Linked DNA regions of Homo sapiens. The protein of the gene in region 2 purifies or fractionates together with the protein of the main gene of each other region. This does not show direct contact. Each region holds a gene or a part of one and is shown on either strand. Other genes may lie near its edges.

Region 1 (8,374 bases), on a different chromosome or scaffold from region 2:
TGGTCTCTAAAAAAATAACAAAAATTGGCCGGGTATGGTGGCTCACACCTGTAATCCCAGCACTTTGGGAAGCTGAGGTGAATGGATCACCTGAGGTCAGGAGTTTGAGACGGGTCTGGCCAACGTGGTGAAACCCTGTCTCTACTAAAAATACAAAAATTAGCTGGGTGTGGTGGCAGGCGCCTGTAATCCCAGCTGCTCGGGAGACTGAGGCAGGAGAATTGCTTGAACCTGGGAGGCAGAGGTTGCAGTGAGTTGAGATCGCGCCATTGCACTCCAGCCTGGGTGACAAGAGTGAGACTTCATTTCAAAAAAAAAAAAACCCACAAAAATTAGCCAAGCATGATGGTGTGCACCTGTAGTCCCAGTTATCTGAGAGGCTGAGGTGGGAGGATCACTTGAGCCTGGGAGGTTAAGGCTGCAGTGAGCTGAGAAATTTTTTTTTTTTTTTGAGCAACCTCTGCCTCCCGGGTTCAAGCGATTCTTGTGCCTCAGCCTCCCAAATAGCTTCTGTGGGGTTTGGCGTGTTGGCCAGGCTGGTCTCGAACTCCTGACCTCAAGTGATCTGCCCACTTAGGCCTCCCAAAGTGCTGGGATTACAGGCGTGAGCCACCTTGCTCAGCCAAGCTGAGAAAAATTTAAAACTCAAAATTAATAATACAACAACAAAAGAATAAATTCTCCAGAGAGGCATCATGGTATACTGTAGAAAACATGGACTTTTAAAAAGACAAAACAAGGCTTAAATTAAGGTTCTGCCTTCGTCTAAGTGACTGCCTCGTCGATCCTCAATTCCTTAGTCTATAAAGTGAGGATAACAATGAATAGGGTTGTTGTGATAATGCAGTAATATATCAAAGTTCTTTAAAAACCGAAAAGCAGTATAGAATTATGAGATATTACTAGACCATGCTGTTTCTTCTTGTGGCTATATTTACAGTGCTAATTTATATTACAGCTATTTATGTTTCATTCTCTAAATGTTATCTAAATTCAGAGGCAATAATTGCTCTCCTTGACTCTGAATCAGTTGTATCCACAATGCACTAAACCAAACACTTCAATACTGAGTGTCTCAGAGTTGTGTCAGAAACAAAAAGGAAACAATTGGGTCACAAAAAAACTTTTTGCCGATTTTAGGTGTAGAACATATCTCAATATAAACATTTGCCAAAAAAAGTACTTGTTAAGTAAGAAAGGCTGTCACCAAATCAAAGAATTGTAGTGCTGGAAAAGGATTTGAGTATTTCTGTAGATCATCTACTGTAATACACATTTGATACATACAAAATTTCCCTCTGCAACACTCTTGACAGACAGGCATCTATCTGCTGCTTAAAACACTTTCTGGAAAATGTCTTTTTTCAGGTAATTCTACTAATTGTTAGAAACTGGCCTAAACTCTGTCACCTGTAATTTCTACCCCGCAAATCTTGTACTTCCTCTGAGAGCTACACAGCAACATTTAATTCTTCCTCTTTAGAACAGTTGTTTTTTTTTTTTAACTTTAGAAGAGAATACTCATATCTCTTGTCCAACTCTTTTCATCTTTAGGTTAAACTCCCTTCAGTTCCCCCATTATTGAATGTATGCCATGTTTCAAGTGGCCCACCTTTATACCAGCTCCACTTTCCCCTGCCTCCCTTTGCAGTAGACTAAACAAGCTTTCATGTGTCCTACGGTGAGACCATCGCCTTCTTTGCCATAAACAGTAAGCTTTAGTCCAATCCATTGAAATCTTTGTGGATATTGGACTGTAAGAAATATATTTGCTTTTCTTCCCAGCTCCAAAATTATAAGCAGGTCAAAAGCAAAAAAGAATGCTGCTCTCAGAACTTTGACAATTTGAGTTTTACGCATTCAAGCAATTATTAGAATAGTCAGGCTGCTGGAGAAGATGGCCTTAAAATTCCTTCCTATGATGCTAGGCTTTAGCTCAGGAATAGAGAGGGATAGGTCTATAAGTCAAATCCTCTCATAACACGAGGATTTGTGGATGCAGAATGCTGACAAGTGAGGCCTGGGAGGCAAAACTGAGGTCAACCCTAGTAAGAACCTAGAGCTTCCAAGCCTCAGAACCATTGCTAGTCCTTTATCAAATGTAGTGGTGATACAACTGGAATTCTCCATGACAGTTTTACCGTGTTCTGTCCCATTTCTCCAGAAGTTACTGTAATGTTTCATTATAAACCATATACACAACCCTGGCAAGAAACTTAGAAAGTCAGTAGAAGACTATAAATATCTAATTATACACTAAATTCCTTCCAAAAAACAAAAGCAGGAATGCCTGTTTAAGAATCCTAAGTAAGGCCGGGCGTGGTGGCTCACGTCTGTAATCCTAGCACTTTGGGAAGCCAAGGTGGGCAAATCACTTGAGCCCAGAAGTTCAAGACCAGCCTGGGCAACATAGTGAAACCGTTTCTCTACAAAGAAAAAATACGAAAATTAGCTGGGTATAGTGGTGCACACCTGTGCACCCAGGCACTCAGGAGGGTGAGGCAGAGGATCATCTGAGCCTGGGAGGTCAAGGCTGCAGTAAGCTATGATAGCACCAGCCTGGATGACAATGAGACCCTGTCGCAGAAAAGAAAAAAAGAATCCTAAGATAATCAATAGGACATTATATTCATTTAATCCATTCAGGATAACAATACAAACTCTCAAGAGTCCATGCATGAGGAAACAAGCTACCAATCACAATCTACATGAAACTGGGCTTTATGAGTGGTATGTCTGGTTGCTTTCCAAGACTTTGGGTTGTCAGACAAAACCTATATTATGGGAAATAATAAACCTCAAATTCATTTTTAACATTTGGCCAAGGCAACTGTACCAGGGAATACTGACTTTCAAGAGAAGTTCTACAGTCGACTTTTCTTAATATGTCTACTATTCTTATTCTTTATTCTAAGTGAGTAAATAGAAGATGTAAAGCCAACTGTTTTTTGATTGGAAGCAAAGTCAAGGATTAAGGTACTATGAGAAAGAAGATACAGGGATTCCAGGACCAAACTATGGGAGAAGAAATGTAAGAAAACAAGTGAAAGATGCTTTCAGAAACCTTCTGAGCCCAAACTCTTTTTGCTAACCTGCCATAAATTAGAATGAGATTCATTTTCTAGACAAGATAAACATGAGGTATATATCAATGCTTATTGAATCATTTATTCAGAGGCAAAATGGAAATACGATAGTTTTTCAGTAAGAAAATATAACTAGAATGAAGGCATTAGTTATATCTCAGAGAAATAAGTAGCTTTACAATCATATTAACACTATTGTCATTATTATTATTATTATTATTGAGATGGAGTCTCACTCTGTTACCCAGGCTGGAGTGCACTGGCGTGATCTCGGCTCACTGCAACCTCCACCTCCTGGGTTCAAGCAATTCTCCTGCCTCAGCCTCCCGAGTAGCTGGGATTACAGGTGCACACCACTACGCCTGACTAATTTTGTATTTTTAGTAGAGACGGGATTTCACCATGTTGGCCAGGCTGGTCTTGAATGCCCAAACTCAGGTGATCCACCCACCTCGGCCTCCCAAAGAGCTGGGATTACAGGCATGAACCACTATACCTGGCCTGTCATTATTATTAGTAATTATTAATAAAATGAATGGCAGCAGATATTACTATATGCCAGGCCCTGAACCAAACATCTTTTATGCAGTTTCATTTAATTCTCAAAACAACCCTCTGATAATATGAGATACAGATGCTGAGGCTCAGAGTCTGAGTGTTCTGTTGAGAGTCACAATAGCAGAGGCAGTAAGTCTAAACCTTGGAAGTGAGCCCATACTCTCAACCACTGTGCTATATACTCTACTGCAGTAATGTGTAAACATTTGATAGATACCAATTACTTTCTACAGACACTACACACACACACATAAACCAAATGAGAGTGCCCCTTTCCCTCAATGTTGTGAACACTGAATATTATCTTTTTTTTTTTTTGAGACTGAGTCTCTCTCTGTCACCCAGGCTGGAGTGCAGTGGTGCAATCTCGGCTCATTGCAACCTTGGCCTCCCAGGTTCAAGTGATTCTTCTGCCTCAGGCACCCTAATAATAGCTGGGATTACAGCTGTCCACACCATGCCCAGCTAATTTTTGTATTTTTAGTAGAGACGGGGTTTCACCATGTTGGCCAGGCTGGCCTCGAATCCCTGACCTCAAGTAATCCGCCCACCTTGGCCTCCCAAAGTGCTGGCATTACAGGCATGAGCCACTGTGCCTGGCATCTTTTTTTTTTTTAATAAATTTTTATTTTTATTTTTTTTGAGACAGAGTCTCACTCTGTAGCCCAGGCTGGAGTGCAGTGGTGTGATCTCAGCTCACTGCAACCTCTGCCTCCTGGGTTCAAGCAATTGTCCTGCCTCTGCCTCTTGAGCAGCTGGGATTACAGGCGTGTGCCACCAAGTTTGGCTAATTTTTTGTATTTTTAATAGAGAGGGAGTTTTGCTATGTTGGGCAGGCTGGTCTCAAACTCTTGGCCTCAAGTGATCTGCCCACCTTGGTCTCCCAAAGTGTTGGGATTACAGGCGTGAACCACTGTGCCTGGCCTAATTTTTAATTTTATTTTCGTACAGTGCCACTTTCAGGATATACATATATATTATCAATCTTTTAAATCTGTGTCAATTAATTGGGAAGAGATAGTCCATTATTATTATTATTGACAGGGTCTCACTCTGTTACCCTGGTTGGAATGCAGTGGGGCACAGTCTTGGCTCACTGCGACCTCCACCTCCCAGGCTCAGGTGATCCCCTCACCTCAGCCTCCCAGTAGCTGGGACCACAAGCATGCACCACCACACCTGGCTAATTTTTGTGTGTGTTTTTTTTTTTTTTTTGTAGAGGCGGGGTCTTGCCATGTTGCCTAGGCTGGTCTCAAACTTCTAGGCTCAAGCAATCCACCCACCTTGGCCTCCCAAAGTGCTGGGATTACAGGCATGAGCCCCTGCACCCGGAAGATAGTCTATTATTTTAACAAGGTTGAGCATGTCCTCATTTATTCATTGGTCATCTGCTTTTTCTTCTAGGAACTGCTTGTTCATATCCTTTGTCCACTTTGAGTTAAATGCTTATCCTATTGATTTGTAGGCAGCCATTTATATTCTGGATATTATAATATCTGACGTATAAATGAATTAAATAAATAAATGGAGACAATAAGCCAATATTAAAAAAAAGCTACATTACTACTCTGTATCTTATACCAAAGAAAATTCAGATGGATTAAAGATAATGAAATCATAAAAGCATAATTCATTCTTATGGAAGTCTGTCAGTTTCTTGTTAATTTAATAAAGTTATATTTTTATGTTGATGAAAAAGCTATTCAAATAGGCAAAACAGTAGATACAGACTATACTAGAAAGCTAGTATAAGAGTACTGTGACAAATGCTAGGTGCAGTGGCTCACGCCTGTAATCCCAGCACTTTGGGAGGCCTGAGGTCAGGAGTTCGAGACCAGCCTGGCCAACATGGCGAAACCCCCTCTCTACTAAAAATACAAAAATTAGCCGGGCGTGGTGGCAGGTGCCTGTAATCCCAGCTACTTGGGAGGCTGAGGCAGGAGAATCGCTTGAACTCCGGAGGTAGAGGTTGCAGTGAGTTGAGATCACATCACTGCACTCCAGCCGGGGTGACAAGAGCAAGACTCCGTCTCAAAAAAAAAAAAAAAAAAAAAAGAGTACTGTGACAAATCTGTCAGTGAAAGCAACTGAAAGTAACTATCTTTGGAAATCATAAACATGGTAAATCTATTATTAAGTGAACAAAGTAAGTTACAAAGTGATATTTACAATTCCATTTTTATAAAAAACACATTAAACATTAGCTACATTAGAAGGCTATATTAAATAATATTTACAAAGGTCACTCTAGGTGGCTGGCGTTTGTAATAGGAAAATTAAATAGAATTTTAAAAAATGCATTGCTTTTGAAGATATTCCTTCTAAACAGACATAAAGCTGGTTAAGCTTCTGGAAAGAAGGGACTGTAAGTTATTCATTTTTGTATCCTTCAAGTGTAGAGTGCCCTATACATAATAGTCACCCAACAGACCTTTGTTGAAGGAACGAAATGGGAAACGTGGGATTTACAAACATCAATCTCTATGTCAGCTGCTTAAAATAATCAAATCCAAAATATTTGCAGGAGAATCATATTGTTCCCCAAGTAACATTTCATTCATAACATTAATTTACAATTAGGAAATGTTATGCTTTTAACAAACAAGAAAGAAATGCAAGGTTCTTAATGTGTATGAGAGCCTTGCATTTCTTGAGAGGTAGTATAGCGCCACAGTCCAGTATAGCTCTTAACCACTATGCTATATTACCTTGTATGGATCTAGGGATCCAGGAAAATACAAATCGAAACAATGTGTTGTCCAAACTGGCAAAAATAAAAAAGATTGACCTAGTCAACGTGGAAAACTGAGTACTATCAACACTGTTGGCAGGAGATCATAATGGTGCTCTTTTTGTAGTGATAAACTCTTCTCACAAAAACAGATACTCTGAAAGAGGTAGGGTGAGATGGGGTGAAGGTGATACAAGAATAAAATCTTATAAGATTTTGTTTTTGAAACAACTGATGGCAAATACAAAGCTTCTACTGAATTCACTCAGACCATGCCTAATTTATGCATACAGTATTCACTTTTATGCAGTATCTTTAAATTTTTTTTTTTTAGAGTTGGGGGTCTCGCTATGTTGGCCAGGTTGGTCTTGAACTCCTGGCCTTGAGCAATCCTCCCACCTAGGCCTCCCAAAGTGCTGGGATTACAGGTGTGAGTCACCATGCCCAGCCAAGTCCTCATGTTTCTATCTACTATGGGCATATGGGCAAGCTTCCATGTGAACAAAAGGGGCACATATTTGTAGGGACCTTAAACACACATATTATGTTAGTCACAGACCATTCTATTGTAAACTATACTAAATCATATTATAAAGCTATAATAATTCAATCAAATGTGTATAGGTACAAGAAGAGACAAATAGATCAATGAAACAGAAATAATCCAAAAAAAAACCTATGTCTTATGAAAATTTAGTATATGACAAGGATGGCATTTCAAAACAGTGAGGAAAAGATGGACTAACTACTTAGTAAATAGTACTGGAACTATTGGCTATCCAAACAGCAGAAGTACTTAGATGTCTACCACATACCAAATGTGTAAATACGTTCCAGGTGGATTAAAGAGCTAAACATTGAAAAGAGAAGAAAAGATAGGATATTTAGTTAATCTTGGGATAAGAAAGATCTTTTTAAACAAGATACAAAATGCAAAAGCCAGATGGCAAATATTAATAAATTTGAGGCCAGGCACGGTGGCTCATGCCTGTAATCCCAGCACTTTGGGAGGCAGAGGCAGGCAGATCATGAGGTCAGGTGTTTGAGAACAGCTTGGCCAACATGGTGAAACCCCATCTCTATTAAAAATACAAAAATTAGCTGGGCATGGTGGCATGCACCTGTAATCCCAGCTACTCAGGAGGCTGAGGCAGGAGAATTGCTTGAACCTGGGAGGCGGAGGTTGCAGTGAGCCAAGATTGCGCCACTGCATTCCAACTTGGGCAACAGACCAAGACTCCGTCTCAAACAAATGAAATAAAATAAATTTGAAATGACAATTTAAAAATTCTGTTCAACAAAAAAGGAGACAATACATTGAAAGAAAATATTTGCAAAATACATAATAGGCAAAGGATTGATATTACAATATGTAAAGAACATCTACAAATAAGAAAAATAAACAATAGTAAAATGGGCAAAAACAAAATTAACAAACAATTTACAGAAGAAAAAGAAATGGCCAAATAGAAGAGATGTGCAACTTCTCTAATAATAACAAGAATAACACTGGCTAAAGCATAATGCTCACTGTGGATCAGGTGCTTTTCTAAATGCTTTAGATATCAACTCATTTACTCTTACAGCCCCATGAGATAGGTACTATTATTTTCCCCATCTTACAGATAAGAAAATTGAGGTGAGGTTAAAGCAGTTGCTCAGGGACACACAACTAGGAGCGCAGGGCTGGAATTCCAATGCAGGCAGTATAGAGACATAGTCCAGTATAGCTCTTAACCACTATGCTACATTACCTTTTCATGGATCTAGGGATCCAGAAGAATACCAATTAAAACAATGTATCATTTGTTATCCAAACTGGCAAATAAAAAAGACTGACCTAGTCAACGTGGAAAACTGAGTACTATCAACACTGCTGGTGGGAGAACATAATGGTGCTCTTTTTGCAGTGATAAACTATTCTTACAGAAACAGATACTCTGAAAGAAAGTTCAGAAAATCTATTTACCCAATAAAAGGTGGACAATAGTCAGTTTCT
Region 2 (8,374 bases):
TGGGGCCCACTCAGAGGTCTGAGGCCCCAGGGGTCACCTAGCCCAGATCCAGCCTTGCTCTGGATACCCGTGTGACATGGGGTGGTGTGTGTTTGAGGGGCTGCCAGGAGGACACAGATGGACGCCTGCTTCGGGTGTGGAGGGAGAGGCTGGTGCAGAGCACGGGGGTGTTGGGGGGCTCTGTGACTGCCCCCAGGGCACAGGAGCTGCTCAGGAACGGATTCTGACGTCTGCCCCCGAGAGTGGCTGGGGTCCGTGGTGCTGCTGGGCGGGTCCAAACCCTGCCACCCATGCTGTATGGACCTGCCATGGAGACGGGGGTCCAAGCCCTGCCCACCCACACCGTGTGGACCTGCCACAGAGGACAGGCTCGCTCAGGGTTGGCTTCCTTCCTGGGACGCTGGCACAGAGGCACGGTCGCCACAGTCCCTCGGATCCCCGAAAGGCGGCAAACTCTTTGTCCTTCCCAGTGGGTTTTGATCAATACAATCACCCCACGTTGCAGCTGTGAGTCCTCGTTCAGCAAACTTCAAGAAACGGAGCAGATGGTGCTGGAGTTCTGACTCTGTAGTGCTTGCTGCCTCTGAATCTCCTTCGAAATCCGTCTTTTAATTCCTAGTAAGTACAGTTCTCTATCAAATTTGCCAGCTGCCAACGGAATGCTGTGGAGGAGGAGGGGGCGTTAGGAGGGCACCCAGGGCCAGGAGGAGGGGGCGTTAGGAGGGGGCCGGCCCCGGAGGAGGGGGCATTTAAGAGGACACCCAGGGCCAGGATGAGGGGCTGTTAGGTGGGCACTGGCCCAGATTGGCCCTGCCTCTAAGCACACGGAGGCCTGTTCCTGGGACAGAGCCGCAGGAAGGACAGGGCGGATGCCTGAGTGCTTAAGGCCTTCGTCCCTCCAGCTGGCCACACCCAGCCCCCCAGCTGGGCCTCTCTTCACTTTCCAGAGCCTCTCCCCTTCCTGCCTTCTCCTGCTCCAGGATGAGTCCAACCGATCCCGGGGAACACAGCCCTGAAGGTCCCAGAACAAAGCCCCAAGTGGAACCCCACGATGACAGGGACCCTCTTAGCTCATGGGACGACGGCACGACCCCCAGGCCCAAGGGGGAAGGTGAGCGGGAGAACACTGACTTGTCTCGCCCCGGCCTCACTTTCACCCGGAAGAGGCCATACACAGGGCGGTGGTCGGACGTCTTGATCCCGGGGCAGGAAGAGTAGCTCACAGGACAGATGTCACCCTTGTGGCGGCTTCTGTACAAGACGCGGTCCTTTGGGAAGATTGCAGAGGCAGGAGGTCCAGTTACTTGTGAGGAGCCGTGGGGCGTGGCCCGCTCACCTCCCTGCTGTTCTCAAGCGCCCCCCACAAGGAAGCCTTCTGGGACCCCTGACACTCATGCCCATTTTGTTGCCTGGCGTCTGTGGCCAGCTGGGCCAGGGCCTGTCCCTCGCCGCTGGAGAGACCCTGTGGACAGCGGCTGCTCCTACCCTGCCCTGCCTCAGTGGCTTCTTGAGGCTTCCAGCAGATATCCAGATATCGGGACATGCCCAGAGATGCAGCCATGGGCCTGGCAGGAGGGTGAGCGAGGGTGCAACGGGCAGAGGGCAGAGGCTCTGCAGGCCGGAGGCGAGGGCATGGCTGGTGCCCTGTGTGCCAGCCGGCTCACCCAGCCTTGAAAACACCCATGGAGAGGGCGCCGTTCTCCACCAAAGGGGACTTGCCACAAGGCCAAGGTGCAGAGCTGAGTTTCAAGTCCAGGCCGTCCAGGCTCAGACCCCTGACGCCAGGCATCGGTTCCCGGCTGTGGGAGATGCCTGCCCTGGAAGCACTCTGCACCGCAGCGGTGGGCAGGCCTCACCGTGTATGAGGGCGTCCTCTGCTTGGAGGTGCTGTCGTACGTGTCCTTCCCGATGTCAAACTTGTATGATGGGAGGAAGTGGATGTCCGGCTCCTGGAAGCCCTTGAAGATGGACCCTGCCACAGGATGGGCACTCGGACTGGCTCAGACCAGCTTGTGCCAGCCGCCGCACCCCAGGCCCTCACCTCTCCTCATCTCCCACCACGCCCACCCTCCCCCCACCCGCCGCAGGCCCTCACCTTTCCTCATCTCCCGCCACGCCCGCCCCCCCAGGCCCTCACCTCTCCTCATCTCCCTCCACGCCCGCCCCCCAGGCCCTCACCTCTCCTCATCTCCCTCCACGCCCGCCCCCCAGGCCCTCACCTCTCCTCATCTCCCTCCACGCCCGCCCCCCCAGGCCCTCACCTCTCCTCATCTCCCTCCACGCCCGCCCCCCCAGGCCCTCACCTCTCCTCATCTCCCTCCACGCCCGCCCCCCAGGCCCTCACCTTTCCTCATCTCCCTCCACGCCCGCCCCCCCAGGCCCTCACCTTTCCTCATCTCCCGCCACGCCCGCCCCCCCAGGCCCTCACCTTTCCTCATCTCCCTCCACGCCCGCCCCCCCAGGCCCTCACCTCTCCTCATCTCCCTCCACGCCCGCCCCCCCAGGCCCTCACCTCTCCTCATCTCCCTCCACGCCCGCCCCCCAGGCCCTCACCTTTCCTCATCTCCCTCCACGCCCGCCCCCCAGGCCCTCACCTCTCCTCATCTCCCTCCACGCCCGCCCCCCCAGGCCCTCACCTCTCCTCATCTCCCTCCATGCCCGCCCCCCCAGGCCCTCACCTTTCCGCATCTCCCGGATGAGCTGGTCGTGCTGCAGCAGCGCCGGCACGTCCACCACCAGGCCCTGGCACAGGAGGGCGTCCACGACTGTGCGCCCGCCACTCAGGCGGAAGTTGAAGTCTCCAAACCAGAACACCTCATCGAAGCGGGTGGTGACGTCCGCTGCGGCACAGTGGGCCATGTGTGGGCACAGGCAGAGGGACGGCAGGTCCTTCCCCTTCCCCAGAACATGGCCTGGGAGTGGCTCTCAGGGGAAGTGGGTCTTGGGCGCCAGCCGGTGGGGCCGGGCCCTCAGGGGTGGGATTCGCACTGGGACAGTTCCAGAAGGCACCTGGAGCAGCCTCAGGAGCAGACGATGCCCATGGCAGGCGATGGCCACGTCCCTGCTCCTCTCCACACAGCCAGGGGAGGCGGCGGGGCGGGCAGTGGCGAGGACCAGGACCCAGGCTAGTGGGCCACGCCGAGTGGACAGGATCCGCCCACCCCACTAACCGTGCTAAAGAACCGCGAGGGGCCATGCGCTGGGGGCACTGGACGTTTCGGCCCTCGCTTCCCAAAGCTCAGGACGCTGCCTCTTCAGAACTGCCCTAAAAACGACGGGCGCCCGTGTGCGAACCACGGCGGCACCACCCACACGCAGCGTGGACGCCCTCACCTGCGCTGGAGCGATAGGGGTTGGTGTCGGGCACATTTCTGGGCAGGACCAGGGCTTGTACAGTCCTGGTGTAGTCCAGCAGCCGCTCCGCCACCTTCCCGTCACCTGCTGTGGGAACAGAAATGGGGTAGGGACCACAGGGTTCCGGATGCTCGAGTCTCCCTAAAGCGCCGCACCTCTGGACTGTGCCCTGACTGCGCACCCCCGGCAGACGCAACCCCACCGGGCATCCGCTGCCGGGCCCAGCCAGTGACATTTCCGCCTCGGAGGACAGAGCACGGGCCCAGCACGGCACGCCCTCGGTGCCGGGGTCTGCCGGGGGTCCTTGGCGTGCATCTTAGCAAGCGTGGTGCCCACCCCACGGCCCTGGGTGGAAGATGAAGCCAGCGGTCAGGACCCCTGCCTTGGACAGGGTCCCGGTCAGGAGAGGAAGCTGTTCTCACACAGCACCTGCGGTGCGGGCACCAAGCAACTTACAGGTGAAGTGGGACGTGATGAAGAGGAAGGAAGTGCCAAAAAAGGTGAAGCTGATGCCCAAGGCCCCCTTGGTCTTGATCTGAGACACGATGCGTGTGGTCACCGTGGAGCACTCCACCTCTGTGGGAGGGGCAGCCCTCAGCTCACCTGTGGGACGCTGCCACCTTCCAGCCGCGCCCACCCCTCCAGCCGCGCCCACCTGAGCAGAACCAGATGAGGTCCCTGCGGATGAAGAGCGACATGTAGAGCACGCCGTGGGCCGCCGAGGACAGCAGCACATAGTGCGGGCCCAGCGTCTCCTGCAGACGAGTCTCCCACTCCCGCCTGCAGAGGAGGAAGCACGGCCGGCTGGGGGACATGGCCTCCCAGCTCCGCCACCCCCAGACCTGCTGCCCAGAGCCCCTCGAGGAGCTACCAGGGAAACCCCACGACCTGGCCTTGGTGTCTTGCGCGGAGAAGCAATTGCCAGAAGGCCTGGTGGGCCAGAGTTGGGACCTGCCGGGGGCCACAGGCCCCAGTTCCACTTGAGTGGCTCCCCTGGACCCCCGCCGAGACCCCAGTGAGCAGAGCTCCTCCCGCCTGAGGGACTCATGGGCCAGGGAGGTGGGGCCCACCTCAACTCCTTCCCCCAGAGCACCTGTGTGGGCGGCAGCCACCTGCTGTTCCCGCCATGACATGGGGGCCCGGGAGGCCTTGGGGCCCGGCCCTGCTCCGGCTGCCCTTCTACTCTCGCACGCCAACAGTTTGTTACCAAAATCAAATCTCATTGATTTTAAACTCTCCGAGTTGCCACTGGAAAAAAATCTGACCCATGCCTCCCACCCAGGCGTGGAGGCTGCCCGTGCCCGGCCGCCACCCGGGTCTCAGCGCCCAGCAGCTTCAGAGACGGCAGCCCCCGGGCAGGCACTGCAGATCTGTGCCCGGCCACGAACCGGGTATCAGCGCCCAGCAGCTTCACAGATGGCAGCCCCCGGGCAGGCACTGCAGACCCGTGCCCAGCCATGACCACAGGTCTCAGCACCCAGCTGCTTCAGAGACGGCAGCCCCTGGGCAGGCACTGCAGGGCCTGCAGCCGCCCTACCTGTCAGAACAGCCCTCCTGGACCCCGATGACATACAGGTCCTGGGCATAGTCGGCCTCGGCTGGGAGCAGGAACTCGTCCAGGCTGGGCGGGAGCTCCTGGAAGGAGGGAGCATGTGGTGGGCCGGCTCCTCCCGAAACCTGCAGGCGCCTGTGGGTGAATCCCACTGCGGTGCCTTGAGTACCAGCGACTCCTCCGAATGAGGGGAAACTGAGGCCAGGGCCAAAAAGGGAGCTGCCCGGTCTCCGAGGCAGCCTCTGACACACCAAACACGCCTCACGTTGGCCCTCGGCCTGTTTCCCTCTCCAAGCACGAGTCTGTCCAACGACCACCCCTGTATGACCCTCCCGTCACCATGACCCCAGCCCGTGCTGCCCACCCTGTCCCTGAGCCACCCCTACGCGTGCCCCGCTGGCCGCCCTCCCGCTCACCTTGAGCAGGTGATTCTCGGCCAGGCCCGTTGCCCCAACCCCCTCCCCTACTTTCTGCAGCCACGTGGCCAGGGAGGTGCAGGTGGGAGCTCTGGGGGATGGGGGTCCTTACCCACTCTCACCCTCCTGTACTGCGGTTAGCAGTGGGGTGCACCTCGGGGCTCTGCCCTCCTGGCCCCAGGATGAGGCACAGAGCTGCCCCGTCCCCCTCACCCGCCTTTGTCCAGCACCACCCCACCCTTCCCCGCCCAGCACCACCCACAGCCACTCACCTTCTGGCCCTGCATGTTCCAGGTGGCCACGAAGAGTGCCACGTTCCGGTCTGGGAAGTAGCGGGCCAGCTCATCCGCCCCCAACAGGGCCCCGCTGGCCAGGAGGCTGCCCTCCAGGTAACTCCTGTGACGGGAGGACCCCAAGCTCAGGGCCAGGCACAGGACACATCCCTGGGGGTCTGGGCCAGGTCCCCAGGGACAATAGCAAAACCCATGGAATGTCAGGAGCTGCCCCCAGCCCCAAGCAAGGACTCTCCTGGCCCCCGCGGCACTGCTGTCTGCTCTCCAGGAACACAAGGCCTGACCTGGTTGCACAAACACCCAGAGCGGGTTCACACCCCCTCCCTACCTCCCGGGAAGAGGCATGAGAGGGTGACGGTTTGGGCTTTTTGGTGGTGGGATCCTGGAAAAGCCACAGAGAGGAGCTCCCAAACTATAAGCCAAGGCAGTGGGCACAGGGTGCTGTTCGGGGAGGGGCTGGTCCTCCTCCTTTCTCCTTTGGCCCCAGCACCAGGCAGGACGGTCTAAGATACAGAGACCACACGAGCCACACGGAAACGCGTCCATCTCCTCGACACCCCGTGGCTTTGACGCACTTTTGGGTTTGCTTGTTTTGGTTTCTAGTGGGGACAGGGTCTCACTCCGTGCCCAGGCTGGAGTGCAGTGGCACTAACACAGCTCCCTGCAGCCTCTACCTCCCGGGCTCAAGTGATCCTCCTGCCTCAGCCTCCCGAGTAGCTGGGACTCCAGGTGCAGTGCCACCACGCCCGGCTAGTTATTTATTTATTTTTTATTTTTGTAGAAACAGGGTCTCGCCACGTTGTCCAGGCTGATGCTTTCAGATTTTAATACGGCGGTGCACACAGATGGTTAAACACCGTGTGGCACAGCAACGTCCCTGCCCCTCCCCACACTCAGCACCTTCTGCCACGAGGGCTGGTAACCCGTCAAGAGGCAACCGCACACGCCTGCCGCTCCGTGGGACATCCAGTGTCTGTCGCCGTGGGCTCTGCTACGGTGGTGCAAGAGCCACCAGGGGATGTGGACACAAGGGGTGCAGCCGTGTGCCCGAGACGCTTGATTTACAGACACTGAAATCTGAATTTTACAATTTTCTTGTACTATGAAACATCATTAGAATGGTTTTGACTTTTTCCAACCATTTGGAAATGTAAAACCCGTTCTCAGCTCGCCGACTATACAGAAACGCCGTGGGCTAGGCTTGCCAGCCGTCCTCCCCGCTCCCTCTCTAAGTAACACTTGTGCGGCTCCTTCTGGATACGCCGTCTTCTGACATGGTTCCCTTCCGCAAGGGGACACGAGAGCATAGTGCCGGATTCCTGTGACCTCCCGCGAGAACTTCTTCAACCCTGGCTGCGGCTCACCAAGCTTCACTGGACACGTTAAATCATGTCAGCAGGGAGGAACCTCGCTACCTCACCCCTAAAACTGTCGACAATCCCGGTCGGGACAGCTGTGTTCACACAGTGGTCATTCGGGACAGAGAGCGTTCCTGTGGGCACCCCTGTCAAGTGATCCCGGGCCCAGCAGGGGCTCCTCGGTCACCAGGCTGGAGGCCCACGGCCCCTTTGCCGGCAGCGCCCATCATGTCCACACCAGCAGCCACGTGGTCAGTCTGCCCAGCTCTGTCCAGAGCATGGTTAGTAACAGCAGGCCAGGGGCGGCCCTCACAGCCATTCCTGTGTCTAGACACGGGCAGGGGCAGAGCTGCCTCGGACCCCCATCCAGGGCCAGGACACTGCACAGCTTCTGCATGAGGACGCTCAGGCTGGCTGCCACAGCCTGGGCCAGCTCTCCGAGCAAAAGGAACGGGTGGGGAAAGGCCCCCTAACCCGCCCTGGCAGCCCCAAGGCACTGGCAAAAGCCAGCAGCCATTCTCAAACAGGGCGGACCCAGCCCGTGCACACGCGGCCCGCAAACTCAGAATGGGTTTTACTGTGTGGAACGGCAGAGAAAGAAAAAAGAGCGAGGTTCCAATGTATGTCCCTAATAGACTCACTGGCACACAGACGCCCTTTGGTCCCCACTGTCTGTGTCTCCCCCTTGACAGAAAGAGTGCGCCGACTCCTATTCTAGAACAGACCGGAGGTCTGGAAATGGGAAGCTGTTAGGCAGCAGAACTGGGTTAAAGGATCCACGTCAACCCTCGTTTCCTGGTTGTTTGAAAACAATGACTTGAGGGTCCAAATTTGAGACACGACTGTCCTTTTCTCTAACAGGTGTATCTACGTCAACCGGATCTAATTTTAAAATGTGATGCTTTAGATGCACTAAGAAATCTCACTCTTTACGAGAAGCCCTGCAGTGAATTATTTTAACAAAAGCAGCAGTCTTGCCCTGGATGTGATCGCACCTGCTCCATCCATGACAGGAGGAGAGTATGGTGGGGGCGCCAGGCACGGGCCCTCACTCCAGGCCTGAGCCCACCTGCCTGCTGGTGCACCACAGACGCGGGGAAGTGAGGCTACCTTCGGGGACTGTGGTGAGCTGAACAGTGATCCCCAAAGCCATGTCCACTCCCAGAGCCCCAGAACCTTGGAATGGGACCTTATTCGGAAACGGGGTCTTTGCAAACGTGTTTAATTAAGGATCTCGAGATAAGACCACCCTGGATTTAGGGTAGGCAGTAAATTCAATGACTGGTGTCCTTATAAAAAGAGAGGGGAACACAGAGAGACAGGGAAGAGGCCACATAAAGACAGAGGCAGAGACTGGAGCATGCGGCCACAAGCCAAGGAACAAGTGGGGCCCCAGGAGCG

What was found. The genes of interacting proteins can lie anywhere in the genome.
Region 1: the proteins of INPP5E (region 2) and PDE6D purify together in Homo sapiens (affinity purification with mass spectrometry; 3 studies listed by BioGRID and IntAct, with this or other methods). This does not show direct contact.

The regions. Positions count from the first base shown.
Region 1 is NC_000002.12:231,770,645-231,779,018, forward strand, and holds part of PDE6D (retinal rod rhodopsin-sensitive cGMP 3',5'-cyclic phosphodiesterase subunit delta), read right to left. Parts: exon of another isoform or gene 8,079-8,374; intron 1-8,078. UniProt on the Homo sapiens protein: Promotes the release of prenylated target proteins from cellular membranes. Modulates the activity of prenylated or palmitoylated Ras family members by regulating their subcellular location.
Region 2 is NC_000009.12:136,429,146-136,437,519, forward strand, and holds part of INPP5E (phosphatidylinositol polyphosphate 5-phosphatase type IV), read right to left. Parts: intron 5,719-8,374; coding exon 5,595-5,718; intron 4,990-5,594; coding exon 4,892-4,989; intron 4,135-4,891; coding exon 4,010-4,134; intron 3,931-4,009; coding exon 3,811-3,930; intron 3,442-3,810; coding exon 3,334-3,441; exon of another isoform or gene 3,171-3,333; intron 2,841-3,170; coding exon 2,679-2,840; intron 1,973-2,678; coding exon 1,857-1,972; intron 1,269-1,856; coding exon 1,132-1,268; intron 663-1,131; coding exon 530-662; 3' UTR 1-529. UniProt on the Homo sapiens protein: Phosphatidylinositol (PtdIns) phosphatase that specifically hydrolyzes the 5-phosphate of phosphatidylinositol-3,4,5-trisphosphate (PtdIns(3,4,5)P3), phosphatidylinositol 4,5-bisphosphate (PtdIns(4,5)P2) and phosphatidylinositol 3,5-bisphosphate (PtdIns(3,5)P2).